Linked DNA regions of Homo sapiens: regions 1 and 2 are each linked to region 3. Evidence: fine-mapped expression QTL. A gene starts in region 3. Each other region holds a variant in brackets. All regions are shown on one strand. Distances are between the middles of the regions. Region 1 overlaps STARD9 (StAR related lipid transfer domain containing 9). Region 2 overlaps CAPN3 (calpain 3). Region 3 holds the start of ZNF106 (zinc finger protein 106).

Region 1 (10,317 bases), 110 kb before region 3:
TGCAGTGAGTCAAGATTGTGCCACTGTACCCCAGCCTGGTGACAGAGCAAGACTCCATCTCAAAAAAAAAAAAAAAGTTTTAAAAATAGTTGTTTCCTCACAAGCAAAGAAATGACACAGATCTACTAAAGAATCTTTTGACCATACCGTCTCTTCTGCAGAAGTGTGTTCATGACACACTGACTGAGCCACATTAGGGTTATGAATAGAAGCCAGGGTTAGAGAGAGGACTTGGGTCACGTTCTGAGGGCTTAGAAGCCTTCTTCAACACTCGACTTATTTGGGCAGAATGACATCACAGAAGAAAAAAAGCATTTCCTTTCTAGCTTTTAGTTTTCTCTTTGTCCCCTTTCTCTTCTTCCAATATATTCCCCTTCCCGCCCCCCACTATCCTCAGCAGCAAAATCATTCAAAAGAGCAGCAGTCCCAGGAGTTTGGTCTCTAGATCTAGGGATGCCCGGAACTGTCATAAGAAAACCCTAGCAAGCCCCTGAGGTACCAAAGAGGAAAGAGGATCTCACACATCTAAGGCTGAAGCTGGGACATGGCACCCAGCAACAACGCACAGTGCATGCTCGGTTAACACTGACTGAATACATGAATACATAATCTATGGACTGAATCCAGAATAGTCACAATAAATGAGTGTTGACTAAAATTAAATTATAGCTGTTCTTTAGGTTTCCCCCAATCCTTTCTGCATTAATTTCCACATATTTGATCTTCAGGCAAGATAAACATTACCAGGTCAGTATCTTCCACAAAGCACCGTTTTCATATTTTTGATTGTGTTCACAAGAGCTCTTTATCACCTTTTGGTATTGGGTCCTGTCAGCACTCTGAGAGGTAGTCCAATATGTCAAAGATGCTTCAAGTTTTTTTGGTTGCTAATAATTTTATATAAGAAAACAAGCCTGGAGGATGGAGTTTTTGTTCTTAACATTCATTCCTGCCTATGTGGAAAAAACTTTTCCTGCAATCAGGCTGCTAGGAGCAAATTTCCTGTTTTTAATACTGTTTAGTCTAAATGGGTCTCTAGAGACCAATCTTAATGTAAGAGAAGCAAGGGAGCTGAGCCTCTGAGACAATTCCGGTTTCATTGTTGGGTTCAGCCAGCCCAGGTGAAGCCCATATCATTCTTGGCAATCCAGGGTCTGGTTGAAGAGATTAGTTATGTGTTCATCTGAACAGCATCCACCTCACGCATCCGGCTGGCAGGGTCCTGTCTTCCCTCAAGCCACACTACCCACAAACCACACTACCCTCCTCCAATCCTAAAGACTAGCTTGCAGAAGGGCAGTGCTGCATGCCAGAGTCACAAGATCTCTAACCACACTCGTCTGTGGCACTTCTTACACCTCAGCCCTTCATAGCAAGTCACTTCAACCAAGCAAACAAAGCCTGACTCCAGCCTTAGCCCATATCCCTGGACAAAGGTGTTTCTCAAGGTTGTCTCAGCAACTTACCAAAGTGTATGCAAAAAAACAAAAAATAAGATAATGGAAAAGAGACCTGCGGGGGGTGGGGGTGAGCACTCAGCTCCACAATTACTTGTTAGTGACAACTAAGAAATATACTGACACAAACCTGGACAGTCAATCAGGAACTTGAGGCTGGTTTTCAATAAAACATAGTAAACCTCTAAAAATCCTAACGGAGCTGACAAATGCCTAAGAGATTCATCCTCCCTACTGTGTAAGTACTTCTATGTGGAAGATACTGATCAGAGGGGGGTAAATAAATACTTGCTAGAAAATAAATACTTGGAAGCAGGTGGGATTTAGGAAAAACCTGTAAAACAATATAGGATTTAATTATATTCAAATATATATTTGTGTGTGTGTGTGTGTGTGTGTGTGTGTGTGTGTATAAGTGTGTGTGTGTATAATATATTAAGATTCTCCTAGATTCAGTCTGGAGGTCCTGTATTTATTCTTTCCCTCTCTAATATGAAACTGGAATTCCTAGGGTACTCCACAGATGAGAAAGAATCTATTCAGAAAAAGAGGCATCAGGAGGGTGGGCACAGTGGCTCACACCTGTCATCCCAGCACTTTGGGAGGGTGAGGTGGGCAGATCACTTGAGGTCAGGAGTTTGAGACCAGCCTGGCCAACATGGTGAAACCCCATCTCTACTAAAAATATAAAAATTAGCCGCGCATGGTGGTGCATGCCTGTAGTCCCAGCTACTCAGGAGAATGAGGCAGGAGAATTGCTTGAACCCAGGAGGCGAAGGTTGTAGTGAACTGAGATCGCACCACTGTACTCCAGCCTGGGTGACAGAGAGAGACTCCATCTTAAAAAAAAAAAAAAAAAAAAAAAAAAGCACCAGAAAAATGCAGGGTTGTGCTGGGAAGGAAAAAGAGCACAATGGTTACAGGGTTGTGCACAGACTTTAGACTCCTCCATGTGGAGGACGTGGCACATGCCTGTAGTCCCAGCTACTCAGGAAGCTAAGGTGGTAGGATCACTTGAGCCCGGGAGATAGAGGCTGCAGTGAGCTATGATCACGCCACTGCACTCCAGCCTGGGAGACAGAGTGAGACCTTGTCAATCAATCAATCAATGAAGTACACTTCAAAACCCAGCCTCTGGGTCAGAATGAGTGAAATGAAGCATCCATTTGCTATAATGGGTGAGCTATTTTTTGTGCCTTAGAGAGTAGCTGGGTCAGTTAGGTCTACTCAGGGGATTCAGAAGAAAGCACCCTGACTGTACATGTATACAAGCACTTACTCTGGATACAAAACTAAAAATAGGCTGGGCGCAGTGGCTTACACCTGTAATCCCAGCACTTTGGGAGGCTGAGGTGGGAGGACCACCTGAGCCCAGGAGTTTGAGACCAGCCTAGGCAACTTGGAAAAACTCCATCTTAAAAAAAAAAAAAAATACAAAAATTAGCTGGGTGTGGTGGTGCGCACCTGTGTTCCCAGGTACTTGGGAGGCTGAGGTGGGAAGGTGGCTTGAGCCCAGGAGGTGAAGGTTGCAGTGACCTGAGATCACACCACTGCACTCCAGCCTGGGCAACAGAGTCCGACCCTGTTTCAAAAAACAAAACTAAAAATAGGTGGTGTTCTGCACATCTCAGAGAGAGGGGCCAATAGAGAGGCTTGAAAACACATGTTCTATATTCATGACTCTTGGTCTTTTCCTATAGTAAATGCAAGATTTAACAGTCCAATATTTTCCAATTGTCAGCTAATTCATGTCATACTCCAAGTATTAGAGGTTAGCACAGAGAAGGAGTGCAAAGGTAGCAGGATGTGGTGAGACAGTAGAATGGACTAAAACTGGGCTTCATCTCTGAACCTCAGTAAGCACATCTGTAAAACAGAGTACTAACCCACTTTACAGGGTTGTTGTGAAGGTGATAAGTACTCAATACAGTACCTGGAAGACTGTAGGTTCTCAAAAAGTGCTATTTTCTTTTCTCCCTTCCCATTGAAGCAAGCTGGTTTGAACATTTTCCAAAATTAAGTACAACTTTTCCAAACCCTGAAATTGAATCTAAACTCCATGGGAATGTTTCCAGATGTTTATGGAAAGAGGAAGTTGTTTGTATTTTCTTAAAATCTCTGATGCGGGAGAAAAGGAAAAGCAATACCAGCCAGAGACCACGACATGTTTGTGCTTTAAACATCGCCACAACACCACCACAAACAAGATGAAATTAGTTTAACAGGGGAGGAACAGTAAAGAAAGAAAAGTAATTATGGGTTTCCATCCCTGTCAGATGTCTTCTCATCTCAGCAGAACCATGATCTCCACCAACTGCATGGAAGCTGCATTAATCTTCCTCGGACACCAATTCAGCGCATATCCCCAGAACGCAGCTGTATCTTTTCTAACTGCCTAACTAGAGAGACAAGAATTGGGAAATAAAGTTATTGACAAAGGGATTATCCCCCACTTCTAGGAAGAGAAGCAAGAAAAGTGAGTTTGAACACACTGTTGTTTACCTCTTCCACTCCTGAGGACCAGCTGTTTAAGGGGCTATTTGTATACAGATGGTGATCTTATGGGCTTAAGTGCACTGCTTCTGCCCTGAAACCAATTCCCCAGGGGCTCTGTCTTTTATAATTTTGACACCTAGACTTGGGGGATGCCTGGGCACATCTGGTCACCATTTGATTTCAGGCTTCTATTGTGTTCAGTCTGTTGCGGAAGTGAGTCTATAAATAGCTCATGTTCCTTTGCCTCATACTTGAAAAATAAGAAACTGTCAACTCTGCCTTTCCTGCAGAAAGGTTTTCGCTGTAGTTCAAACATCTGAATCCAGCCCCTCTATAATGACCATACATCAAGTTAATATGCTAAGTAGCAGCCTCAACCAAATGATTCAT[A/G]TATCTATTTTATTATAAGATTAAATGGCATCCAGAATAAAACTCAGGAGAGAGCTCCATGTTAGGACTAGTGAATAATTCATATGATGCTTTGAGAAGTCTTTGATCTTTTTGGAAACTCACCAAGCTGTGAGGTTAAATTTATGTACATGAAACAGCACCCTCAAGATTTAAGAAGAAATGTCCTTCTCATCTTTGGAACAGAATATATGGATTTAAATTCCATTCGATCCAGGTCAGGCGCGATGGCTCACACCTGTAATCCCAGCACTTTGGGAGGCTGAGGTGGATGGATCACTTGAGCCCAGGAGTTAGAGACCAGCCTGAGCAACATAGTGAGACCTTGTTTCTACAAAAAATAAAAAATTAGCCAGGTGTGGTGGCACATGTTTGTAGTCTTAGTTACTCAGGAGGCTAAGTTGGGAGGATTGCTTGAGCCCAGGAGATCAAGGCTGCAGTGAACTAAGATCACACCACTGCATTCCACTCCAGCCTGGGGGACAGAGAGAGACCCTGTCTCAAAAAAAAAAAAAAAAAAAAAAAAAAAAAATCAATTTGATCCTGAATAAAGCAATCATACTATGAACTAGATTTCCTCCCCTGACAAAAACAATCTTCCTCCCTCTTCACGTTTTTTCAAATCCTTGGTTAAAATATGATAACATTTACCACACTGTGGAGTAATTCTCTCTTTAGTATCTGTCTCTGTCAAGAACTATTAGTTTTTAAAGGACAAATACAATGTTGGTTCTTATTGGTTATTTCCAGTGCCTAGCACAATTCTTGGCATATTTTTATGTAAATGCATGCTGAATGAATGAACGAGGTAGAATAATCACATATTATATGACCTTATGAGCTTCCACAAATAAAAAAATCAAATTTGATGTTGATTTAAGAGACAGGTAAGAGAAGCGTGGATCAAACAAGTAGAAGCAGACAGACTGAAACTGCCTTTGCAAAAATCATGACAGTGAAAAATCTGACATAGGAAGTTATGGCAGTGAAAGAAATCTGACCTAAGCAACTCCATCTTACTTCTAACCTCCAGGCTACCTTGTTCACTCCTGGGCACAGGTCAAGCTAACTAAGGAAGGAATTTATAGTTTAACTTTGAAACAGGTAACAGCCCCTTCCCCAAACAAACCCCCTCCTTGCATGGGGACCAGACCACCTTTGTAAAACTAACACATTAGCCACAAGACTAGAAATTACGGTGCAGGAGTCATGCAGTCAGGGATCACAAGATTCTTAACCTCCTCAATTGCTCCTATAGATAGGAACTGAAGTATTTTTCCTTTGGTTCTTTGAACCAAAGATAGGAATTGAAGTATTTTTCAGACCCTGTATTCTGATGACCAGCTGGTGCCACCCAGACCTTACAAAACTGGCTCATCTGGTCCTGTGGCCCTCCCACCCAATAACTGACTCAGCACAAGAAGACAAGCTTTGACCCCCTATGATTTCATCCCAGACCCAACCAATCAATATTCCCCATTCCCTAGCCCCCTGCCTGCAAAACTATCCTTTAAAAACCCTCGTCTCCACATATTTGGGGAGACTGATTTGAGTAATAAACTCTGGGCTTTTGCTTAGCTGGCTCTGTGTTTATTCAACTCTTTATTGTGATTCCACTGTCTCGGTAAATTGGCTCTATGGGGCAGCAGGCAAGAACCTTGTAATCTGGTGATTACAAGAACAAAGACACAAATTGTTTCCTCTTCACCTCCACACCTGCTCACAATTCTAAAATGTCTATTTTTGGCTGGCATGGTGGCTCATGCCTGTAATCCCAGCACTTTGGGAGGCTGAGAGGATCACAGGGTCAGGAGTTCGAGTCCAGCTGGGCTTGCATGGGGAAACCCAATATTTACTAAAAATACAAAAATTAGTCAGGTGTGGTAGCACGTGCCTGTAGTCCCAGCTACTCAGGAGGCTGAGGCAGGCTGCACTCCAGCCTAGGCAACAGAGCAAGACTCTGTCTCGAAAATAAATAAATAAATAAATAAAAAGTCTATTTTTACTGGAAAGTGGGCTTGTGTAAATATATGTAAATCACAGAATAATTGGAGCCAACATATTGTAACAACCACCTCAAACTTTATCCTGGAAAAGAATATATGAGGCCAAACTCCAGTCCCAAAAAATGCAGTTCAGAAAGAGCAGCAAGTAGCAGCAAGGATCCATACTGGATATGAGGCAGGAGAATAGGGTCTAGAGGCAGGGAACCTAAGGCTCTCACGCCAACTTCCCAGAACTAAACTGAAAGGAAAACCCTAGACTTTCCACGCCTAAGTAACAAAAGTAACAAAAGGGGTGGGATGAAGGAGTTGGGGGTCTTGGCTTCATTTGCAACTTTGTAACTTCACTCCACAGCTCTGAATGGTTGCTGTCTACAACCAATCAGGCTGATTGCTGGCCGAGTCTTCTTCGTTTACCATAGAGGTATGACTTTGTAACTTCACCCTAACCTCTGTTTGCACAGCAGTGTGACTTTTGCAACTTCACTTCAGGCTCTGGTTGACTGCCTTCTGCAACCAATCAGACAGATTGCAAGCTACCACTTCATTTACATGAGGTGAGCATGCAGTGGCCAATGGGAAAACTTCTAGAGGGTATTTGCACCCAAGGAGATTCTGTATCTGATCCCTTGAGTCAGTGCTCAGCCTGCTCCCATACTGTGGAGTGTACTTTCATTTTTAATAAATCCCTGCTTTCATTCTCTCGTTTCATTCTTTCTTTGCTTTACTGGGCATTTTGTCCAATTCCTTCTTCAAAACACCAAGAACCTGGACAACTTGCAGTCACGACCCCTCTACCTTGAACATACCATACCTTAGCCAGGTATATCAAAACCTGCAACTGGAAATGCCCCAAAATATTTCATAGTAAATTATCAATTTCTGGCTTTGGCTTTAAGAGATAAAGTCACCCAGCCATGTTCTAGAAGCCAGAGCATACTATTGCCATGTCTGACAAAGACTCTGCCTGCCTTTGGTGTAGGAAACAAACACTAAATTAAAATTTGCTCTAGGCTGGGTGCAGCAGCTAATGCCTGTAATCACTTTGGGAGGCTGAGGTGGGTGGATCACTTGACGTTAGGAGTTCAAGACCTAAGCCTGGCCAACATGGTGAAACACTGTCTCTACTAAAAATATAAAAACGAGCCGGGCGTGGTGACACGCACCTGTAGTCCCAGCTACTCAGAAGGCTGAGGCAGGAGAATCACCTGAACCCGGAGGCAGAGGTTGCAGTGAACTGAGATCGCACCACTGCACTCCAGCCCAGGTGACAGAGCAAGACTGCCTCAAAATAAATAAATAAATAAAATAAAGTAAAATAGGCTCTAGAGTCCATAGAGCAAAATGTAAATTTTTTGCAGATCATCTGCTGACGCTAGACTTAATGCTATAGGGTTTGTGGAATATAAATCAAACACACTGTCCATCTTTGCACTGATAGGTGAAATAAAGAATATATTAACAGACCGACAATGGAGAGTTTTGCTCAGAAAACCCTCCTGTAGAAAAACAGATATATCCGGGAAGTGGGGGGCAGCCCCCACCCGGCCAGCCGCCCCGTCCGGGAGGTGGGGGGGCAGCCCCCGCCCAGCCAGCCGCCCCGTCCGGGAGGTGGGGGGCAGCCCCCGCCCGGCCAGCCGCCCCATCCGGGAGGTGGGGGGCAGCCCCCGCCCGGCCGCCGCCCCGTCTGGGAGGTTGGGGGGCGCCTCTGCCCGGCCGCCCCGTCTGGGAAGTGAGGAGCCCCTCTGCCCGGCCGCCACCCCGTCGGGAGGTGTACCCAATAGCTCACTGAGAATGGGCCATGATGACGATGGCGGTTTTGTCGAATAGAAAAGGGGGAAATGTGGGGAAAAGAGAGAGAGATCAGACTGTTACTGTGTCTGCGTAGAAAGAAGTAGACATAGGAGACTCCATTTTGTTCTGTACTAAGAAAAATTCTTCTGCCTTGGGATGCTGTTAATCTATAACCTTACCCCCAACCCGTGCTCTCTGAAACATGTGCTGTGTCCACTAAGGGTTAAATGGATTAAGGGCAGTGCAAGATGTGCTTTGTTAAACAGATGCTTGAAGGCAGCATACTCGTTAAGAGTCATCACCACTCCCTAATCTCAAGTACCCAGGGACACAAACACTGCTGAAGGCGGCAGGGCTCTCTGCCTAGTAAAACCAGAGACCTCTGTTCACATGTTTATCTGCTGACCTTCCCTCCACTATTGTCCTATGACCCTGCCAAATCCCCCTCTCCGAGAAACACCCAAGAATGATCAATAAATACTAAAAAAAAAAAAAAAAAGAAAGAAAAACAGATATATCAAGTGAGATAAACGAAGCAGGCTGGCACTGTGGCTCATGTCTGTAATCCCAACACTTTGGGAGGCCAAGATGGGCAGATCACCTGAGGTCAGGAGTTCGAGACCAGCCTGATCAACATGGAGAGACCCCATCTTTACTAAAAATACAAAATTAGCTGGGCATGGTGGTGCATGCCTATAATCCCAGCTACTCGGGAGGCTGAGGCAGGAGAACCGCTTGAACCCGGGAGGCAGAGGTTGCAGTGAGCCAAGATCGTGCCGTTGCACTCCAGCCTGGGCAACAAGAGCGAAACTTGGTCTCAAAAAAAAAAAAAAAAGAAAGAAAGAAACGAAGCAAAACCCTCTCTCTCTCACACACACATGCACAAGCACCCCCCATTTGTTTACCCAGCACCTAGCCCATCCCTGGCATATAATAGATAAATGTTTGTTGAGTGAAGAATGCTTTTTCTGTAACCTATAACCTTGTATCCAGTATACACTGCTTCCTCTCCTCAGGTTAAAAGTCCTCATAGCTCCTCCAAATTATCTAAAGGGAAAGCACCCATCCTCCCTTTCTTGCTTCCTGGAATGGGAGTGATGACATGTCCTATATAGGCTGGACTCAACTAAGTATCCAGTACGCTTCTGAAACCACTTTGTCATTGTACCAGAGAAACCGTTTGGTCTTCATCTCCTCTAGGAGTCTGGACCAGCTTAGAGGTGAAATATAGGAGTCTGGCCTCCTGAAACACTTGGAAAGATGGGCACTGTGACTATATCCTCTTAGTTTCACCCAGACTAGCACCACCTGATCCCCTCAAACACATGGTGTACATTCCTGCCTTAGAGTCTTTAAGCTGTCCCCTCCAACCAAAATGACCCTCCCTGAACTCATTCAAAACAAACTTTGGATATGTTATTCTTCTGGATTCCTTAAGTACTTACTCTAAGTACGATTATAACACTTAAATGCTTGTTATTCTTGATGATCTTTACATACCTAAAGCCTGGTAATCCCAATAAGACTGTAAGCTTTTTGAGGGCAGGAATCACATCTACTACTCTGTATTCCTCGCAGCACTAAACCCCATGTGTTGCTTCCTAAATGCTTACTGAATGAATGAATAAATGAATGGTCACTGTGCTAGGAAACGTGGCATGTTCAAAGATAGATGAGACCTAGTCTGCCTTCAAGGATCACTCAGACTAATAAAATAGATAAGCCTTGTATCCAAAGAGCATTAACTTTAGTTAGTAAACAGAATGTATCACAAGGGAGTAACAAGATACTATGAGAATCCAAGAGATGGTGACTTCAAGGAAGAAGCATCATTTTAACTGAACCTTAAAGAACAAGCAGTATTTTGTACGATAGAAACTGGAGAGGTGAGATGTATTAATATACACTAGGAAGAGGAGCCAATATAAGCAAAAGCAGAGAAAGATATGGCATTTTGGGGAAGGGCAATAACCAAAATAACTAGGACAGTCTGAGAAAGAACGAGCCCTCACCAATATTAAAAAGTAGTGAAACAAGATGGTGTTTTCATGTATATTTGAAACTTTCTGAAACAGTATGGTTCAGGCACAAAAATACAGTTGAGGAAACAAAACAGAGTTTTAAAAGAGATCCCCAAGTATACGCCGGGCATGGTGGCT
Region 2 (8,375 bases), 79 kb after region 3:
ATCATATGTATATTTTATTGATTTCAGTTTGCAATTTTTAATTTATGTTCTTATGATGGTTTAAACCTATAGTCAGGCTTTTAAGTACAAGTTTGTTTAAGTGCCAGACTTTGAGGATCAGTTTTAATTTCTCCATTTGTAATAGCTGGGTATTTAAACTGGAAGCAAATAGTTTTCTTTCTTAACAATTATGTGCAGTGTGTGTCACTGTTTTCTTGCTTTATAGATAGAGCTGGCTTTAAGTGCTAAAGGACACAGTAGATTTTTGACAAACAGTGGCTGCTCTGCTGACTATCTTTTAGGAATTCAGGAAGCAAATCACATAGTGACAAGTCCTTACAGACACCACTTCTAGTAAATCTCTGTAAATGTGGATAGAAAGCTCAGTGTGAGGCAGTGCGTAGACCTAACGTCTACCTTTACATCTGCTGTTGAACCTGGGCACTACCTGTTACAGATCCTGTCAGGCTGTTGAACTGGAGGTGTACCTTTATCTTCCTTTCTAGTGTCTGACCCTGCAAGCCTAATGTTGGTTTGAACCCTTTTGGTTTGTTCAGTTGCCAGCCTCCATCTCTCCCACTGTATGGCCGTGCCTAGACCGATGGCAGCCATCGAATATTCCTCTGGGCTCACGGGGTGTTTTCCACCCCCCTGCAGCAACTAAGATGGTGGGGGAGAGGGGGTTAGAATAAAGCATCTGAATACAGTTTTCAGGACCTCAAGCAGACTTCCTAGAGACTTGTTTCTGAGACAGTTCTTTGCCTTCACTTCCCTGCTAGCTGGGAAAGAAGAGTGGAGCAGAGACTCTGCCTGGCCACTGAGAACAGCCAAATTCACAAACCCTCAGTGGGGCTTTGTTTTTGGATTTTCTCCGGACTCATCAGTAAACCTGTAGAAGTGTCGCTTTCCAGCCTTTTGTTTCTGGATCCTCAAAACTCAGAACGTGGCCGGGCGTGGTGGCTCACGCCTGTAATCCCAGCACTTTGGGAGGCTGAGGCAGGCAGATCACCTGAGGCTAGGAGTTGCAGACCAGCCTGGCCAACATGGCAAAACCCCGTCTCTACTAAAAATACAAAAAGCCGGGCGTGGTGGGCGCCTGTAATCCCAGCTGCTCAGGAGGCTGAGGCAGGAGAATCGCTTGAACCCGGGAGGCAGAGATTGCAGTAAGCTGAGATCGTGCCACTGCACTCCAGCCTGGTGACAGAGTGAGACTCCGTCTCAAAAAAAAAAAAAAAAACTCAGCTTCTTCAGAGAGATAAAATTGGGGGAGGAGCCCAGGGCCACATACCAAGCTTTGGGACATGGTGCCTCATGCTCTCTGGGATTGCAGACCATCCAGGTCTGTCTTCGCCCCTGTTAGTGCACATATATCCACTCACATGTCTTCCCTCAGGCTATCGGGCAGGGGGACTTCACCAGGGGGTTTATGGATAGGCTTCAAGAGGGTCTGTGAGCCCCCAGAAATTGTGTGTGAGACTGAGTATGTGTTCTTTTTTCCAGGAAAGGCTCCAGTGGTTCTTACTTGATCCAAAAAATGTCAAGAATTAATCTAGGAGGCCGGGCCTGGTGGCTCACACCTGTAATCCCAGCTCTTTGGGAGGCCGAGGCGGGTGGATCACTCAAGGTCAGGCATTTGAGACCAGCCTGGCCAACATAGTGAAACCCCGTCTCTATTAAAAATACAAAAATTAGCTGGGTGTGGTGGTATGTGCCTGTAGTCTCAGCTACTCAGGAGGCTGAGACAGGAGAATCACTTGAACCCTGGAGGTAGAAGTTGCAGTGAGCCAAGATCATACTACTGCACTCCAGCCTGGGCGACAAGAGTGAAACTCCACCTCAAAAAAAAAAAAAAAAGAGTTAATCTAGGAGATAATGAATGGCCTAGTACTAGATAATATATGGCCCCACAAGCTCTTGACTTCTGTCCTTGGGGAAAGCCATTTTGTTAACCACACTAGTGAGATTTACATGATGCTTAATGGAGAACAGAGAAGATCTTGTTGCAAAAGGTGTATTAAATATTTGTGCTGTTTCTGTATGAGATTGAGAAGCTTTTCCCACCTCTCACCCCTATTTCCTATAAGGATATCCAGAGAAGCCAAACTGTTCTGTGGGTTTGGGAATGGTCATTTCCCGGGAAAATGCATCTGGATCGATGACTAAACCTGGCCCTTTTCTCTGGGCTGTAGTGAAGCCGCATTTTCACGCTGGCTGGCAGTGTGCTGAGAGCCTCGAATGCTCTGCGGCGTAGTGCCCTTCTGCCCTGCCTGACGATGTATCGAAAAGATGAGAGTGAAGGAGACTTTGTGCAGCAGGAAACGGGTAGGTGAGGTGTTGGGCAGTTGTGGGAACTTCTGAGAGTATTACAGAGTGGTAGAATCGGTAAGAACTCTGATTTGGACTTCGCTTTGGTGGAACTGTGTGCCTATACCTGCCTGTGTGTGTGCAAGTGTGCAGGTTCCTTTGTATGTATGTGTACGTGTGGGAACCTGTGTTTGTCATATTTTTCTTCATTTCACAAAGGCTTTTTTTGAAGCAGTGGCAGTATGCCTTTGTTTCAAGAACACATGAAATTCTTTTAACACCAGATTAGTGTGTTACCCCAAATGAACGGTTCTAGCCCTCTATTAAGAAATAAAGGGACCATAAGCATTTTGGCTGCTTATGGCTGTGTGTTACTACTTACAAGAGTCTTGAAAATTATACAGAACTTTGCCTTCTTTTTTTAATGTCTTCCACAATGTTGTGACTGATTATAACCCTGTTTCCCCTCAGAGAAGAGCTATGGCTCAGGGATCTGTGTTGACTCTGGCATTTAGTGGCTTTGTGAAGGAAAGAAACCATTAAATGACCTGACAAAAACTGACTCATGTCTTTAAAGTAGTTGAAGCCACTTTTAGAATGTTACTCTCGGTTGCTTTTGTCTAATTCTAATGGCTTAAAGCCAAGAAAACCATAGTATAAATCTTTTTGTGTACCTATGCTAGTGTTTAAATGGCAGTTCGTTGTGATAAAGTATCAGTCACTTCAAGTTTTCTGTGAAAGTTTTTAATTAGGTTAAAAATAATTTTGGCATACGTCTCTACTCAGTTTATAAAGCAGTTCCACACCATGCAAACAAAACTCT[A/TA]ACAGCAAAGGTTATCTTGACCTGATGTTACTTGAATCTGAGAGAAAGTCATTACTTACTACTGCACTCCTGCTTTTGTGGGAAAAATTTTCTTCTTCCCCAGAAGAGTTAACAGTTGAGTGTTCAGCTCCTGACTTACCTTTAATTTAGAGGCAATATTATTACTGTTTAAGTGATTATTTGCTTAACACAGGTTTTATTTTGTCTTTTTGCTGGTAGATTATACAAGGGACAACTTTAGTGATGAGGCATGTGGATGATTTGGTGGGAGTAGGTATATACTTAGTGGAATGGTTTATTTTATGGAAGAGAATTCATTGGAGGTGAGATTGAAGTATATTGTGAAGTGGGATTTGAACAGCACATATGCTCTGGTTTGCTCAAATAACTGCAGTTTATGCTTACATCTAAATTTTGTTTCTGTTACCTAAACGGGAGCTTCTAGAATTACGAAGGCCATACCTGCCACATTTATAAAATAATGGTTTTATCCCTGCCCCCAAATCATCAGGTTCCTCGGGTTTAAGAGAAGTGGTCTAATAGACAGGAATAGAAGTTGTGGTGGAGGTGATTTGGGATAGACTAGGTTTCCTTATGCAAGTGGATATGAGCTCCTCATAGAAACCAGACCTACTGTATTAGACAGTAACCTCTAACCTCACCTCCAAGCCCAAGTATATGGCCCTGCTGGGTTACCTGGTGACTACATTTCCCAGATTCACTCTAAATTCAAGGTAGTGACCCAAATAAATTGGGAAAGGAGGGGGTCAAGGAGGAAAAGCTGTTGAAAATCTTTCTCCTATTTAAGAGAAATATATGCCCTAGAGCTGCTCCAGCACCCTTGGTTTCTGATTTTTTTAATATTGAATATGGATTAGAAGAATGAAATCAGATGACACCTGACTGCAAAAATGTTTATAAGCAAATAGCCTTCTTACATTTTGGTATAAAGCTGTGAACTTCGTAACTTTGTAAAGCAAGATATAAAGCAAATACAAGAGGAAAATAAAGTACTTTTACTAATTGACGGTTTACTTTCGTTACCTTGTCTGCATATTCACGGCCAGCCCTTTCCACGTTGGCTTAGCGAGGAAGAAGGAAACTGGGTGGAAAACACAGGATGCCTATAGATATGCCGCAGGCCATGGTCCAGAGAAGTTTAGCAAACAAACAGCTGCGTTCAGGGTTTTGTCCACGGTCATGCGACAGGTCAGTTAGTGAGCAGAGGAGCTAGGATAGCTCAATCTCCACTCCATTATTCAGGTAACCGGCCCCTCCCGTTGTACATGACCCATTTATTCTTGATGTCTTTTACAGCAACAACTATTCCTCTGCCTTCCTTTTATGTCTTGGAAAGTATCTGAGCCATTCTTATGCTCAAGAAATAGCAATAGGCATGATTACAAAATTCAAGATTTTGTTTTTGTGTGTGTTTTTCATTGTTCTCTTGTAGGTGATAGGTGAGTATATGATTGGAAGCCATTCAGTCATGCATGGCTGATATCTAAATGTGAGACAACAAAACACAAGGGGACCAGCCATACACATGCCTTTATTTAGATCAGCTTTTTTCAAAATGCAGCCAAACTTATGAGTTGGACAGCCCAAAGTAACCAGCCCTATTCCACTGAGTTAGTTTACCCCACAGCAGTAGAACCCAGTGCTGGTTTGGTTCCTGGCCCATGGTGGGACAGCGTGAAGGTGATGGAGGGCTCTAGCACAAGGAGGTGCTGAGTGCCACCGGCAGGTGCTTCTGCAGACAGCCTAGAGCAAGGTAAGCAGGAGCACTCGCTTCAGAACCGAGGCGGCTCGGACCAGAGGCAGGCACTTTCCTCCACATGGCAAAGGGACAAGGGTTTGTTCTTCCTACCTCATTGCTTTACTAAAGGGTCAGGCTAGGCATGACCGATCAAGGATGGGTAGGGGGTAAAATGGAGGAGGAGCATGACTGATGAGGTGCCTGGAAGCCTGTAGGGGTGTAGCTGCTGGGTCCTTTGAGGTAAATGGCTTTGGAAATAGAGGGTGAAACTGAAATCCTGAGTGATCCTGCATGGCTTTGGATGAGGCCAGCCTGGTTCAGGCATACATGGTGAGCTGCAGCCACTGAAAGAAGTCCCAAGATCAGAATGTAGATCAGAAAAGAGTGACCCCCCCCCCCCCCGCCCTAGGAATCTTACGGGGCAAGAGGAAAGGGAACAGTCCCAGCAGGTCAGACCCCCAGAAGATTTTCCAAGAAGCAGTGGCTTACTGTTTCCTTTCTCCTAGATCTTCCCTAAGAAGGTGCATGTTTTCCCGCATCAAGTGACTGGGGGAGCAGAGGTCCTTTTGGGCCTCAAGTGCATGTGTCCTGGGAGCCTGCTGAGCCTCCCTCCATGTTCTGTTCCTATCCCTTCCCTCCACCACTGTGTGGAAATGAGGAGCACACCCTGGGTCCAGTCCGCCCCGTTGACCCCTCCACCTTGAGTTTTAATGTGTAGGGGGAATGTGCTGTGCCTATGCTTTACCTCCAGAACGTTGAGCTTGATGATACCATCTCCATCCTTGTCAAATGCATGAAAAGCTCCTGTGAAAGAATGCACAGGCCAGAGGCCAGTTACAGGCGCACTCCGCCTCTACTACTGTAACTTCCCCTCAGAGGACCATGTGCCCAGTGCTGTCCCTCATCAGCACAAAGATGTGCAGGCAGAGAATCACCAGTAACCCTCCCTTTGCCATCCCATTCTGGGCCTAAAGAGGTCATTGGCCCTTGTTCAGCCTGGATGGAGCAGACTGGAGATTATCAGGTGAGATGCCTGTTGCCACAACTGCCCCTGCAAGAGAGCAGAGGGCAGCCCCCCTCTCCCACTTACTGAACATGCCCTCCAGCCTAACGAAGCAGCAGATGAAACTGTCAAAGTCGATGTTCATGTGTTTGTCTGCGTACCGCATGGTAATGATGTCATAGAGCTGGTTGTTGAGGTGGAATCCTGTGGAGGGGACCATGTTAGAGGTGGACGTGGAGCTGGAGGCCTTGGGCCTGCCTTCTATTTTCCCTGCCTCTCGGCCACTCTGTGACCTGGGAAGGGAAAGTGAGAAGCCCTTTCCCTCTCCTTTCTCTAGTGGGGCCCTAGTAGCCTAGTCCCCTCCCATTCCTGCTCCCACCGTCTCGGGTCCACATCCCTGCCACCCCTTCCTTCTCAGCACCTGCGTCGTTGACTGCATTTCGCATCTCGTAGCTGTTGATGGTGCCGGACTGGTCTGTGTCATAGTGTTTGAAAATTTTCTGGCAATAGAAAATTTGAGGATGGAGGTCACACACTGAATCTCCAAATCAACCCCATTCTTGACTCCCACGCTTCATTTTCTCTTCCCACCTGCCAGGCCTTAATCTTGTTCCAGAGGTGGTGGAACTCCTGCAGGTTGAGCTTTCCAGAGCCATCTGTCTGGAGGAGGGAGGTCAGGGCTACACAGCACACAGCAAAATCCCCCTGGATTTGGAGGGAGGGTCTAGGAGACTCCGGGCTGTCCTACCCACTGCCCTGTTGTACTATTTAACCCTCCCCTCCACTCCACCACCAGTCAGAGATTGCGCCTACTCTGTAACCCAGGAGCCGCTCTCCTAAGGACCACTTTTGCTTGGGCAGGATCCCAGGCCTGAGAGAAGCACAGGGGTTAGGGCAGTTACAACCCAACATCCTCCCCTTCCGCCTCTAACAACCCCTTTCAGACGAGTATCCAAGATGTTCTGAATCAGGGTCTCCTTAAGTTTCCCTGGGCACAAATTAGGGCCCTTTGCCTGACTGGGCACCCTGTATGTTGCCTTGGCCCCCGTGGGCTGATGACAGAGGGTCGGGAAGGGGCGGCAGGAAGGATACATCCATGAGCGCAATCATGCTACGGCAGGACTCCAGTGTGAACCCGTGTGTCTTCAGGTCCTTGTCTGGGGGGATGGAGAAGAGTGAGGAGCTGCTTTGAGACAACGGGACTCCCCACCCACCCCACCCCCATTTGGTTTGAGCAACTCACGTTTGTTCACGACTGTGTTAAGGACCTTCTTGAGCTCATCTGCACAGATCTCCATGTCCTGAGGAGGAAGGGAGAGGAGGGTCATGGTTCAGGAGTACAGCAGCTCCTGGCGCGGACACTTTGCAAAACAAATTCCACCTGGCTGTGTTTGTAAAATCCCTGTCGGTGCTATTATGTCATGGGAAGCTGGGGCTTTTCTGAGGAAGACAGGGGGCCAGATACTGCACCTCAGCTATCAGGACCACCGTGGGCAGCTCAGAGCAAAAAGGCCTCTGAGCCCCCCAGCAGACGTGGCAGTCCAAAACTCAAGGGCTTGTGGATTTGTGTGCTACGCACACATCCCCTGGCTCCACCAAAGTCCAAAGTGACCTCTACCAAACAATAATGAAATAATTGGTAATCTGAGCAGTTAATCCAGGAGAGAAGGAAGCACCTGTGGGCGTCCTGGGCTTGGAGGTACTCACATCTCCTGCTATCTGCTTGAAAATGTTCCGGAATTGTTGCTGTTCCTCACTTTCCTGATCAGAGCTGCCAGGCTGTGGCTGTGGAGGCACAAAGGAAAACTGGTTCACAGGGGTCAGAGGTGCACAGGCCTGTGAGGCAAGCTCCTCTGGGCCAAGGGAGCCAAGTGCCTAAAACGGCCGGAGGTGGCAGCAGGAGCTGGGGACGGGCAAATGCAGACCTGGTGAGCTGGAGTGAGATGCATCGAGGCCTCAGGGACTCTTCACACCTCTCCAGCCCTGACGCCCCCAGCCAAAGGAGATATGGCGGCCATACAGCCTCCTCCCCGCCACCCCAGTCCCCACCTGCAAGAGCCCCCTCCACCATCCCAGGCCTGACCATTCCAACTAAAGGTGCCCGCAGGTCAAAGAAGGTCTGACCGTTCTGATTCCTCCAGCCACCCTGTCATCAAGGCCAAGTCCTCAGAGAACCTCCCCTAGGCCCCACTGCATGAGGCCCCAGATAGAAGAGGGGCTCCCAGACAGAAGAGGGGCCCTGGATAGAAGAGGGGCCCCCGGATAGAAGAGGGGCCCTGGATTGGTCTGGAGACTTTTGCCTCTAAGGCTCACCTCCACTAAGCTCCCACTCCAATCTAACACCCTCCCGTGAGCTCTAGAGGACCCCATTTCTGAAGTCAGCCCCACTTTTCTGCTCCTATCCTTTATCCCCCTATTGTGAAATGCTCAAGGCCACCAGGAGACAAGAGTTGCGCCTCCGCTCTCAAGCTGGTTCTGTCTCAGCC
Region 3 (10,317 bases):
ACTGAGAGTCAATTAAACTTCCTTCCTTTATAAATTACCCAGTCTCGAGTATTTCTTTTGCTTTTTGTTTTTTTTTGAGTTGGAGCCTGACTCTGTCTCCCAGGCTGAAGCTCAGTGGCACGATCTCGGTTCACTGCAACCTCTGTTTCCCAGGTTCAAGTGATTCTCCTGCCTCAGCCTCCGGAGTAGCTGGGATTACAAGCATATACCACCACGCCTGGCTAATTTTTGTATTTTTAGTAGAGATGGGATTTCATCATGTTGGCCAGGCTGGTCTCGAACTCCTGATCTCATATGATCCTCTCTCCTCGACCTCCCAAAGTGCTGGGATTACAGGCGTTAGCCACCAAGCCCGGCCTTGGGTACTTCTTTATAGCAGTGTGAGAACGCACTAATACAGACCCCATTCCAGGAGATGACAAATAGCAAAAGGCAAAATGATACTCCCTTCTTGACTTTTTTTTCCTCTCCCACTTTTATGTCTTTACGTTTCCTCCTACCATCAACTGCCTTTCCTAACATTGTGGTGACTGATTAAAGAAGAAAAAAAGGACGAGATGAAACTACACTTTACAGTACTTTTTCCCCCCACCACTCCAATCCCGAATTGTGAAATTCATTCTTTTCCTGATCCTCTAATTTGTGCAGTAATGCCGCGAGGTAAGGCTGAACCTTTCTAGAGAGCAAGGGCTATCCAATACCAGGAACCTCAGAGTCCTTCCTCAAGCCATTATCTCAGAGCTATCTGATCACTGTGGTCACCATACAGGCAGTCTATTAATGTCAACTACAGCAACACAGTAAGGGTGAGGGGCGGAAAGTGATCTCTGTTTAATTTCGAGGAAGGGTCCAGAGAATTACCATCCAGCTACCCTTCCTCCACTGGTCCCTCGATGTTCTCCCGGCACCTCCCGTCCTCTCTCCGGGCCCATCTGCCGAGTAAGGGCCAGAGAGCCCCCTCCTCCGCTTAAGCCCGACCCCACCAACTTTTCAACCAATACGATACACTCTTTCTTCTCAGGACATAGTCTCAGACTTCATCCCGGCCAGCTCCCTCCGTCCCACTCCTGGAGACTCACCAAGCGGGCGAGGCCACTCCTCTCCGGCGGCAACTCGGACACCCCAACACCGGACCTGGCGCTGCACCCTAGTCGCGCCTGCGCGCGCCGAGCCCGCGCGCCTGCTCACTTCCCGTTCGCCGCGGACACAGACACACCCCTGCAGCTGGAGCCAATCACGGTGCTGGGGGTTTAAATGTCCCTGCCACGCAGACGGAGAGTCTGGGAATTCACTAGTTAACCGGATAGATTTCAGTCCTGCCCGAAGCTGGGAGGTGTTCATGCAATAAACATTTACTGAGGGCAAACCGTATGCCAGGCACTGTGCTGGATGAACGCTGAAGAAAAGAAAGCGAATACAGTGCTTTCCCTGCTCTTCATCGCCTTTCAATATGTCTAGACTAAGATATAGATATGTAAACAAATTATAGTGGATAGAATACAGTGCATAGCACATAGAAAATTTGAGGCGCCTTTGGCTGATAATGAACAAAGCGTTTTATTCTTAGGGGTGTCTGGAAGGGTTCCCGGAGGAAGTGACTTGAGTCATGAAGGATAAGTAGGAGTTCCCCCGGAAATCCGGCAGAGAAAGAGCTAGAGTTTTCCAGGCTCTGGGGAACAGCTTATGTCGAGAACAGCATAACGCCTTCTGGAAATTTCTAGTAGTTCATCCTTGTTAGAGGCTTAGTGCTAATCGTACATCCCCGAGTGTAGAGGAAAGAAAGCTTTAGAAGGCCAACAATCGCTAGATCTTGGAAGGCCTTGGAATTTTAGACCACTTTGTACTAGGGGCACTGAAAGCTATTGAAGAGTTTTAAGCAGATGGAGGATTATTGTAAACTATTTGCTGCAGGAACCCCTCCATGCACCTCTAAGAATAAAATAAACTGCTGGAAATCAAGAAAAGAAAGTGCTTCACCAGGCACAGTGGCTCACGCCTGTAATCAATCCCAGCACTTTGGGAGGCTGAAGCGGGCAGATCACGAGGTCAGGAGTTCCAGACCAGCCTGGCCAACATAGAGAAACCCCATCTCTACTAAAAATACAAAAAATTAGCCGGGCATGGTGGCAGGCGCCTGTAATCCCAGCTAGTCGGGAGGCTGAGGCAGGAGAATCGCTTGAACCTGGGAGGCGGAGGTTGCAGTGGGCCAAGATCATGCCATTGCACTCCAGGCTGGGCAACGAGAGTGAAATTCCGTCCCCCCTACAAAAAAAAAAAAAAAAGAAAGAAAAAATAGCTGGGTGTGGTGGCGGGTGTCTGTAATCCCAGCTACATTACTATCATAATGTCTATCACTGGCGACAGTGCCAGACTCCATCTCAAAAAAAAAAAAAAAAAGTGCTTCAAGGAGTAAGTAGTCTATTCCTAAGGGATCAAGGAAGATGAAGCCTGAGAAATGTTTTTTTTAATTTCATAACACAGAGGTCACTGATTATCTCAGTGAAAGCTGTTTGTTGGAATGCTGGGGTTGAAAAAAACAACTTAGTAGTTTGGAGGTGGGGGAGATGTAGAGATGGGGACAAGTTGTAGAATGCTTTTGGAAAGTTTGGCCTTGACAGGGAGGAAGGAGGGAGAATGATGAAGGATCAAGATTTTTTGTTTTTGTTTTTTTGATTTTTGTTAGAATTAAGACAGGAGAAACTTGAGCATGGTAGGGAAGATTCAACTGAGAAAAAAATGGTTGAATAAAGGAAGAGAAGGGATAGTCAGTAGGCAAAGATCTTGAAAGGGTAAGAATAGAGGCAGTTTAGAGGCAGTTCGAAACACTGGTAAGAATAATGGTTTTGGAAGAGGGCAGGGAGGGAGAAAGAGAGAGAGAGGAGATATTTCCCCAATTATGAGAGGAAGTATGTTTCTGTATGTTTAGTAACAGGAAGTTAAAGTTCTCATTTGCTGACTTGTTTTCTCTGTGAAGTTGAAGATGGGGTCATCTTCTGATAGAAAAGGAGGTGGTATTGGGAGTTTAAAGGAAAGCTGAGAAGATTTGGAATATTGTAGAAAGTAATACAACAAGTTGACAGAAGAATGTTGTAGGACTGGTAAGCAATATTGAGGGCCTTTTTAATATGGGCAAAAATGAACTCACCATTTTCTGCCCTCCTGTGTAAATTTCTCAAGCAGCAGTCACTTGTTGAGGGCAGAGGTGGAGAAAATGTATGGTTGAGTTCATTAGTTCATTTAGGGTTGTGATGGTCATTGATATAATTCCGTGGTTCTCAACCAGGGACGATTTTGTCCTCCGGGGGATATTTGGCAATGTCTGGAGATGCTTTATTGTGATGACAGGGAAACGGGGGTGGGTACTACTAGCATCGTGTCCAACAGTGCTGCTAAACATACATACACACACACGCACACACATATATGTATATATATATAGAGAGAGAGAGAGAGAGAGAGAAGGTCTTGCTCTGTTGCTCAGGCTGGAGTGCAATGGTGTGATGTCAGCTCACTGCAACCTCTACCTTTGCAGCTCAAATCCTCCCACCTCAGCCTCCTGAGTAGCTGGGACTACAGGTGTGCACCACCACTGCCGGCTAATTTCTGCATTTTTTGTAGAGACACGGTTTCACCATGTCACCCAGGCTGGTCTCAAACTCCTGGACTCAAGCGATCTGCCTCCCTTGACCTCCCAAAGTTATAGGATTACATGTGTGAGCCACTGCTCCCAGTCTGCTGCTAAACATCTTATAATGCACAGGATACCCCTGACAAAAAAGTATATGTTCCAAAATGTCAGTAATCCCAAAGTTGAGAAACCATAATCTAGCGTTACCTTGGCACTCACCAATATCTGACTGTGGTCTTCTACAGGCTTTTCCCTGAATGATGGCCCAGAGTTTATAGGGTAAAATAGTTCCTCCATTGCATGCCTTTGAAGGAGAATAGAATGAGCAGCGTACCACAACCCTTGAGTGTTTCAAGGACTTGTGATGTCACAAACACGGAATTGGAAGTTTCCTAAACCTCTAGAACAAATCTGGATTTACATAGAAGAGGTTAATATAGCCGCTTCCTTTCTTTTTTCTCTCTCTTTTTTTTTTTTTTTTTTTTTTTGAGACGCAGTCTCGCTCTGTCGCTAGGCTGGAGTGCAGGGGCGAGGTCTCGGCTCACTGCAACCTCCGACTCCCGGGTTCAAGCGATTCTCCTTCCTCAGCCTTCCGAGTAGCTGGGACTACAGGCACGCACCACCACGCCCAGCTAATTTTTGTGTTTTTAGTAGAGAAGGGGTTTCACCATGTTGGCCAGGATGGTCTCGATCTCTGGACCTCATGATCTGCCCACCTCGTCCTCCCAAAGTGCTGGGATTACAGGCGTGAGCCACTGTGCCCCACCGCTGCTTACTTTTATTTGAGACGTTGAAGGTCTTGTTAAACAGAGATGTTATAATCTCAATAATATAGGAGGGACACTCCACATAATTATCAACCTGAATGTCATTTCATTTATCTGATAGTCTTAGTCACTAAAATTAGGTTTCTGAGGGAATGGGTATGGGCTAAGTTTAATAATAAATATAGGCGGCCGGGCGCGGTGGCTCACACCTGTAATACCAGCACTTAGGGAAGCCGAGGTGGGCGGATCATTTGAAGTCAGGAGTTTGAGACCTGCCTGGCCAATATGGCGAAACCCCATCTCTACTAAAAATACAAAAATTAGTTGGGCGTGGTAGTGCACGTCTGTAATTCCAGCTACTTGGGAGGCTGAGGCAGGATTATCGCTTGAACCCGGAAGGTGGAGGTTGCAGTGAACCAAGAGAGCGGTTCTGCACTACAGCCTGAACGACAGAGCAAGACTCCATCTCAAAATAACTAACTAACTAACTAACTAAATAAATAAATAATAAATGTAGGCTGGGCGCGGTGGCTGACACCTGCAATCCCAGAACTTTGGAAGGCCAAGGCAGGCAGATCACTTGAGCCGAGGAGTTTGAGACCAGCCTGGGCAACATGGTGAAACCCCGTCTCTACTTAAAAAATATTATAAATACCTTAGGCATGAGTAAGAATAAAGTCAGTATTATGGAATGTCTGCTCTGTGATAGGCAGCATTCATAGATAAACACTTGACCTATGTTATTTAATCCTAGCAACACCCTGTGAGATAACATTATCCTAATTTTAACTCAAGAACCTGAGGTTCCAAGAAGAATTGTAATTTACCCAAAGTCACAAATTATTCGTAGCTAGTCCAAGATCTGAAACTCAGGTCTGGCTGTTCTAAAGCTCTTGCACCTTCCATTCAACTTCAGAAAGTTTTACAAGGAAGGAGTGTTTTCAAAATGTAGCCCGAACAGTTGCCACTGACTAAAGGAAATGGCGGGACACCAAGGAAGAGAGTAGGAGCTACAGGGAGGCCGGGAAAGAACAAGGAGAAACAAGGAGAATGAAAAAGGGACCAGGGAGGCTGTTCATAGCGTCCAACGCTGCGTACTGACTCTCCCGCAAGCGGGCCTGCCTTTGTTCTTCCTCCATTCTTTTTGAGAAAAACCTCTTCCTGTGTGTCCGTTGTTCACTCTCTTGTGTTCAAATAAAGCTAGATTATTGAGAACTGCGGACGGCAAAGGAAAAAAAAGCGAGCGTGACGGCTTCGGTGTGCGCCTGCGCGTTGGCGGCGGCTGTGGCGGGGCCCGGCGGGGAGCGGGTCCGGAGCAGGCTCCCGGACCCAAAACTGAAGGGGGCGTCTGAGGCGTCAGGGAGCTCCCTCGCCTGGCTCTCGGCGGCCTGATGGAGTAAGAGGGGTTGGCTGTGAATGTGAGTATCGACGGGCCGGCCTGCGTTGAGCGTATCGGAGCCCAAGGGTCCTGGTCGTCTGCCCCTTAGGGAGGTTGTGGGGCTGCAAGACACCACCGGGTTTCTACTCCTGCAGGCTGCGGCTCAGGGGCAACCTGGTGGTCCACTCTCCCAGAGCCGGCGCGGGTTTATGGGCAGGCGGTGCTGCTGGCTTCGGGGTACGGATTTTCGCGGGGGCGTTCCAGCTCTGCTCCCAGCCCCAGAAGGAAACGTGGCTCCAAAGCCTTGACCTTTAGGGGAAGCCACTGACCTCCTTCGTCCCCAGTTGGGCAGGGAGTCCAAAGACCCTGGTCCTTAAAGCCCGTAGGTCTCAGGCCAGGGACACATTTCAACCTCTCGCGACTGACAACCTCCGTTCTTTTTCCTCCTTTCGTTTCTCTCCTTGTGGGATGCGTCTTGATAATAACAACTAATAACAAATAGTAACAACAGCTTACTGTGTCCGTTTAATATTTAGTCCGAATCTCGGTGTATAATTGTGGAGAGGAAATGCTTTACATCCTCTTCCCCTTTCAATTTGTTGTGTAATCATCTTTGAGAGTAAGATTAAGGCATCTTATTGAGAAGTTTGAGATATCCGTGGCTTTTAGCAACTTGAGACTGTCATCCTAGGTAAGCGAAGTTCTCTTACCTAGCAAATAAGTGCTGTATCCACCATAATGGTTTATATCCAGTTTATTCAAAGCACAAATAACTTCTTTTTTTTTTTTTGAGACAAAGTTTCGCTCTTGTTGCCAGGCTGGGGTGCAGTGGCGCGATCTTAGCTCACTGCAACCTCCGCCTCCTGGATTCAAGCAATTCTCCTGCCTCAGCCTACCCAGTAGCTGGGATTACAGGCACCCACCACCATACCTGGCTAATTTTTTGTATTTTTATTTATTTTTATTATTATTATTTTTTTTAGGACGGAGTTTCGCTCTTTCGCCCAGGCTGGAGTGCAGTGGCGGGATCTTGGCTCACTGCAACCTCCGCCTTCCAGTTTCAAGAGATTCTCCTGCCTCAGCCTCCCGAGTAGCTGGGATTGCAGGCGTGCACCACCACCACGCCCGGCTAATTTTTGTATTTTTAGTAGAGACGAGGTCTCACCATGTTGGCCAGGCTAGTCTCCAACTCCTGACCTTAGGTGATCCACCCACCTTGGCCTCTGAAAGTGCTGGGATTACAGGCTTGAGCCACCACGCCCGGCCCACAGATAACTTTTGAGTGCTTATTAAGAGCTTAGTACTGTTGTAAATAGCATGGGAAATCTTAAAATTTGCTTTAAGCCCCGTTCTCAAGTTTGGTCGTGAATGAAATAATGAAAGACAATTTTCAGATGCAACTAGAATTTATTTAGTATCTACTACACATTTGCCAATACCGCGCCATGCCTAGAGTTAACTCTTGAGTCTAGAAGATAGTAGGAGCCCTTTAATTAGAAATACTAGATGGTTTTCGAGGAGAACTTTAAAATGGCCTGGAAGGGGCCAGGCGCGATGGCTCACGCCTGTAATCCCAGCACTCTGGGAGGCCGAGGCGGGCGGATCACCTGAGGTCAGGAGTTTGAGACCAGGCTGACCGACATGGAGAAACACCGTCTCTACTAGAAATACAAAATTAGCTGGGCATGATGGCACATGCCTGTAATTCCAGCTACTTGGGAGGCTGAGGCAGGAGAATCGCTTGAACCTGGGAGGCGGAGGTTGCAGTGAGCCAGGATTGTGCCATTGTACTCCAAAAACGAAACTCCATCTCAAAAAAAAAAAATTAAAAAATAATAAAAAATGGCCTGGCAGGAGGTAGAGGGTGTGAACGAATCTGATCAGGCTAGTTCAGAACCTATTGTGTGTGTGTGTGTGTGTGTGTGTTGTTTTTTTTTTTTTTTAGAGAGAGCCTTGCTTTGTCGCCCAGGCTGGAGTGCAGTGGCGCAATCCCAGCTCACTGCAACCTCCGCTTCTTGGGTTCAGGTGATTCTCCTGCCTCAGCCTCCCGAGTAGCTGGGATTACAGGTGCCCACCACCATGCCTGGCTAACGTTTTGTATTTTTAATAGAGACGGGGTTTCACCATGTTGGCTGGGCTGGTCTTGAACTCCTGACCTTAGGTGATCCACCCACCTCAGCCTCCCAAATTGCTGGGATTACAGGTGTGAGCCACAGTGCCCGGCCTCAATTGTTTTGATTAAAAGGAAGATATTTAAAAAGGAAAGACTATGAATAGTGATTATTGTACATCTAGATTAGTGCACGTGTAGTCTGAAGGCTGCTCTACAAGAGTTGAGAGGAATGGAAGATGCTAGACGACTTGGTTCTGGGACCAGGAATGGCTCAGTGAGAAGTCTATGTATTGTGTGTTTTGTAATTGGGAGTATCTTAGTGGAGAGTTTAGGATTAATTTCTGTACCCAATGAATAAGAGCACCTGGGCAGACAAGTTACATATGAATGCTCTACTTGGACCTCTAGCATGTGAAATCACTAGTGGAAACTCTACAGTCGAGTGTGTGTGTGTGTGTGCATGTTTGTGCATGTTTTAATCTGAAAGAAACTATCAAGAAGCTCCCAGGTCTTCATCAGTGAAGGATTGGTTAAATAAATGTATGAATTTGCTAGAAAGAATGAGCCAGCTCTATATGTGCTAATATTGAGTGACCTCCCATATAGTGAGAAAGAAAAGGTGCAAAAGAGGGTGTGCATTTTGCAACCACTGTGGTTTTATAAAAATATTATGTATTGCATATACAATTGTTCCTCCATATCCGTCCATGGGTTCTGCATCCATGGATTCTACCAACTTTGGATGGATAATATTTGGGGAAAAAAAATTCACAAATTTCTGAAAAGCAAAACTTGAATTTGCTACGTGCTGAGTACATACTACATTGCATCCACATAAATGAAGTTATGTGTAGGCATTGTATTAGGTCTTACATGTAATCTAGAGATGATTTAAAGTATACGGAAGGTATGTGTAGGTTACATGCATATACTGTGCCATTTCATATAAGGGTCTTTAACATTCTCAGATTTTGGTATTGAGGGGGATCCTGGAACCAATCCCCCATGGATATCGAGGGACAACCATATATGCATAGAATATCCTCTGTGGAGGATAGTCAAAATCATAGAGACAGAAAGTAGAATGGTGGTTGCTAGGGGTTGAGGGAGGGGGAAATGAGTTATTGTTTAATGGATATAAAGTTTCAGTTATGCAAGATGCAAGTAGTTATGGAGACGGATGGTAGTGTTGGTTGTACAACATTATGAATGTATTTAATACCACTAAACTACACTTAAATGGTTAAGATGGTAAATTTTATGTTTTGTATTTTCATGCAAAAAAATTGAAAAATATCTCTGGAAAACAAATAAGAAACTCACAAGAGTGGCTGACTGGAAGTGGCGGTGGCTAGGAAACAGGAGGGGGTAGTAATAGTTTTTCCTAAAAGCTTTTTTTTTTTTTTTTTTTTTTTTGAGACAGGGTCTTGCTCAGTCACCTAGGCTGAAGTACAGTGGCATGATCATGGCTCACTACACCCTCAAACTCCTTGGCCCCAGCAATCCTCTTCCCACCTCAGCCTTCTTAGTAGCTGGGACTACAGGTGCGTGCCACCATGCCCAGCTAATTAATAAATTTTTTGTGTGTGTGAAGAGGAGGTCTCACTGTGTCACCCAGAATGGTGTTGAACTCCTGGCCTCAAGTGATTCTGTTGCCTCAGCCTCCCAAAGTGCTAGGATTATAAGTGTGCTGCCACTGCATCCAGGCCATATTTTCCCTATAAGCTTTTTTATTTTATTTTATTTTATTTTTTTAAAGATGGAGTTTCACTCTTGTTGCCCAGGCTGGAGTGCGATGGCACGATCTCTGCTCACTGCAACCTCTGCCTCCCAGGTTCAAGCGATTCTTCTGCCTCAGCCTCCCGAGTAGCTGGGATTACAGGCACCTGCCACCATGCCTGGCTAATTTTTTGTATTTTTAGTAGAGATGGGGTTTCACTATGTTGGCCAGGCTGGTCTCAAATGCCTGACCTGGTGATCCCCCCACCTCAGCCTCCCAAAGTGCTGGGATTACAGGCGTGAGCCACTGTGCCTGGCCAAAAAAATTAATTTTTTAATTGGCAATAAAATATATGTATTTATTGTGTACAATATGGTGCCTTGACATATATATATATAACAAGTCCTCACTTAACATCAATAGGATCTTGGAAACTGTGACTCTAAGCAAAACAGCATAATAACAAAACTAATTTTGCCACAGGTTAATTGATATAAAAAAGAGTTAAGTTCCTATGGCATATTTCTGGTCACAAGAACATCACCAAACTTCTAAATGAAGACCCCAAACACTTCTAATACTAAACATTGAAATAAATGTGAGCTATACGTAGATGTAAAAAAGAGTAGCTTGGGCATGGTGGCTCATACCTGTAATCCTAGCACTTTGGGAGGCCAAGGTGGAGGACACTTGAAACTGGGAGTTCAAGAT

The links. PIP is the estimated chance that this variant, and not a neighbour inherited with it, causes the effect.
Region 1: its variant is fine-mapped to the expression of ZNF106 in whole blood (INTERVAL, PIP 0.95).
Region 2: its variant is fine-mapped to the expression of ZNF106 in whole blood (TOPMed, PIP 0.91).

What each region holds. Positions count from the first base shown.
Region 1 is chr15:42,599,203-42,609,519 of GRCh38, reverse strand. The region is part of intron 3 of STARD9 (StAR related lipid transfer domain containing 9); the gene reads right to left. Among named protein-coding and RNA genes, the nearest start is that of STARD9, 29 kb to the right of the region's middle. RefSeq lists enhancers at 208-477, 8,106-8,722. The variant A/G (reference allele first, on the strand shown) is at 4,344.
Region 2 is chr15:42,408,602-42,416,976 of GRCh38, reverse strand. It overlaps CAPN3 (calpain 3), which reads right to left. Exons shown (of 24, transcript NM_000070.3): 17 at 7,597-7,674; 18 at 7,133-7,190; 19 at 6,982-7,046; 20 at 6,481-6,549; 21 at 6,311-6,389; 22 at 5,977-6,093; 23 at 5,632-5,690; 24 at 4,660-5,230. The coding sequence ends at 5,204. It overlaps ZNF106 (zinc finger protein 106), which reads left to right. Exons shown (of 22, transcript NM_001366845.3): 22 at 1-4,154. Among named protein-coding and RNA genes, the nearest start is that of CAPN3, 53 kb to the right of the region's middle. The variant A/TA (reference allele first, on the strand shown) is at 3,128.
Region 3 is chr15:42,486,476-42,496,792 of GRCh38, reverse strand. It overlaps ZNF106 (zinc finger protein 106), which reads left to right and starts at 5,652. Exons shown (of 22, transcript NM_001366845.3): 1 at 5,652-5,813. It overlaps SNAP23 (synaptosome associated protein 23), which reads right to left and starts at 1,159. Exons shown (of 8, transcript NM_003825.4): 1 at 1,080-1,159. RefSeq lists enhancers at 399-942, 943-1,486, 5,480-5,589, 5,890-5,939, 5,990-6,179.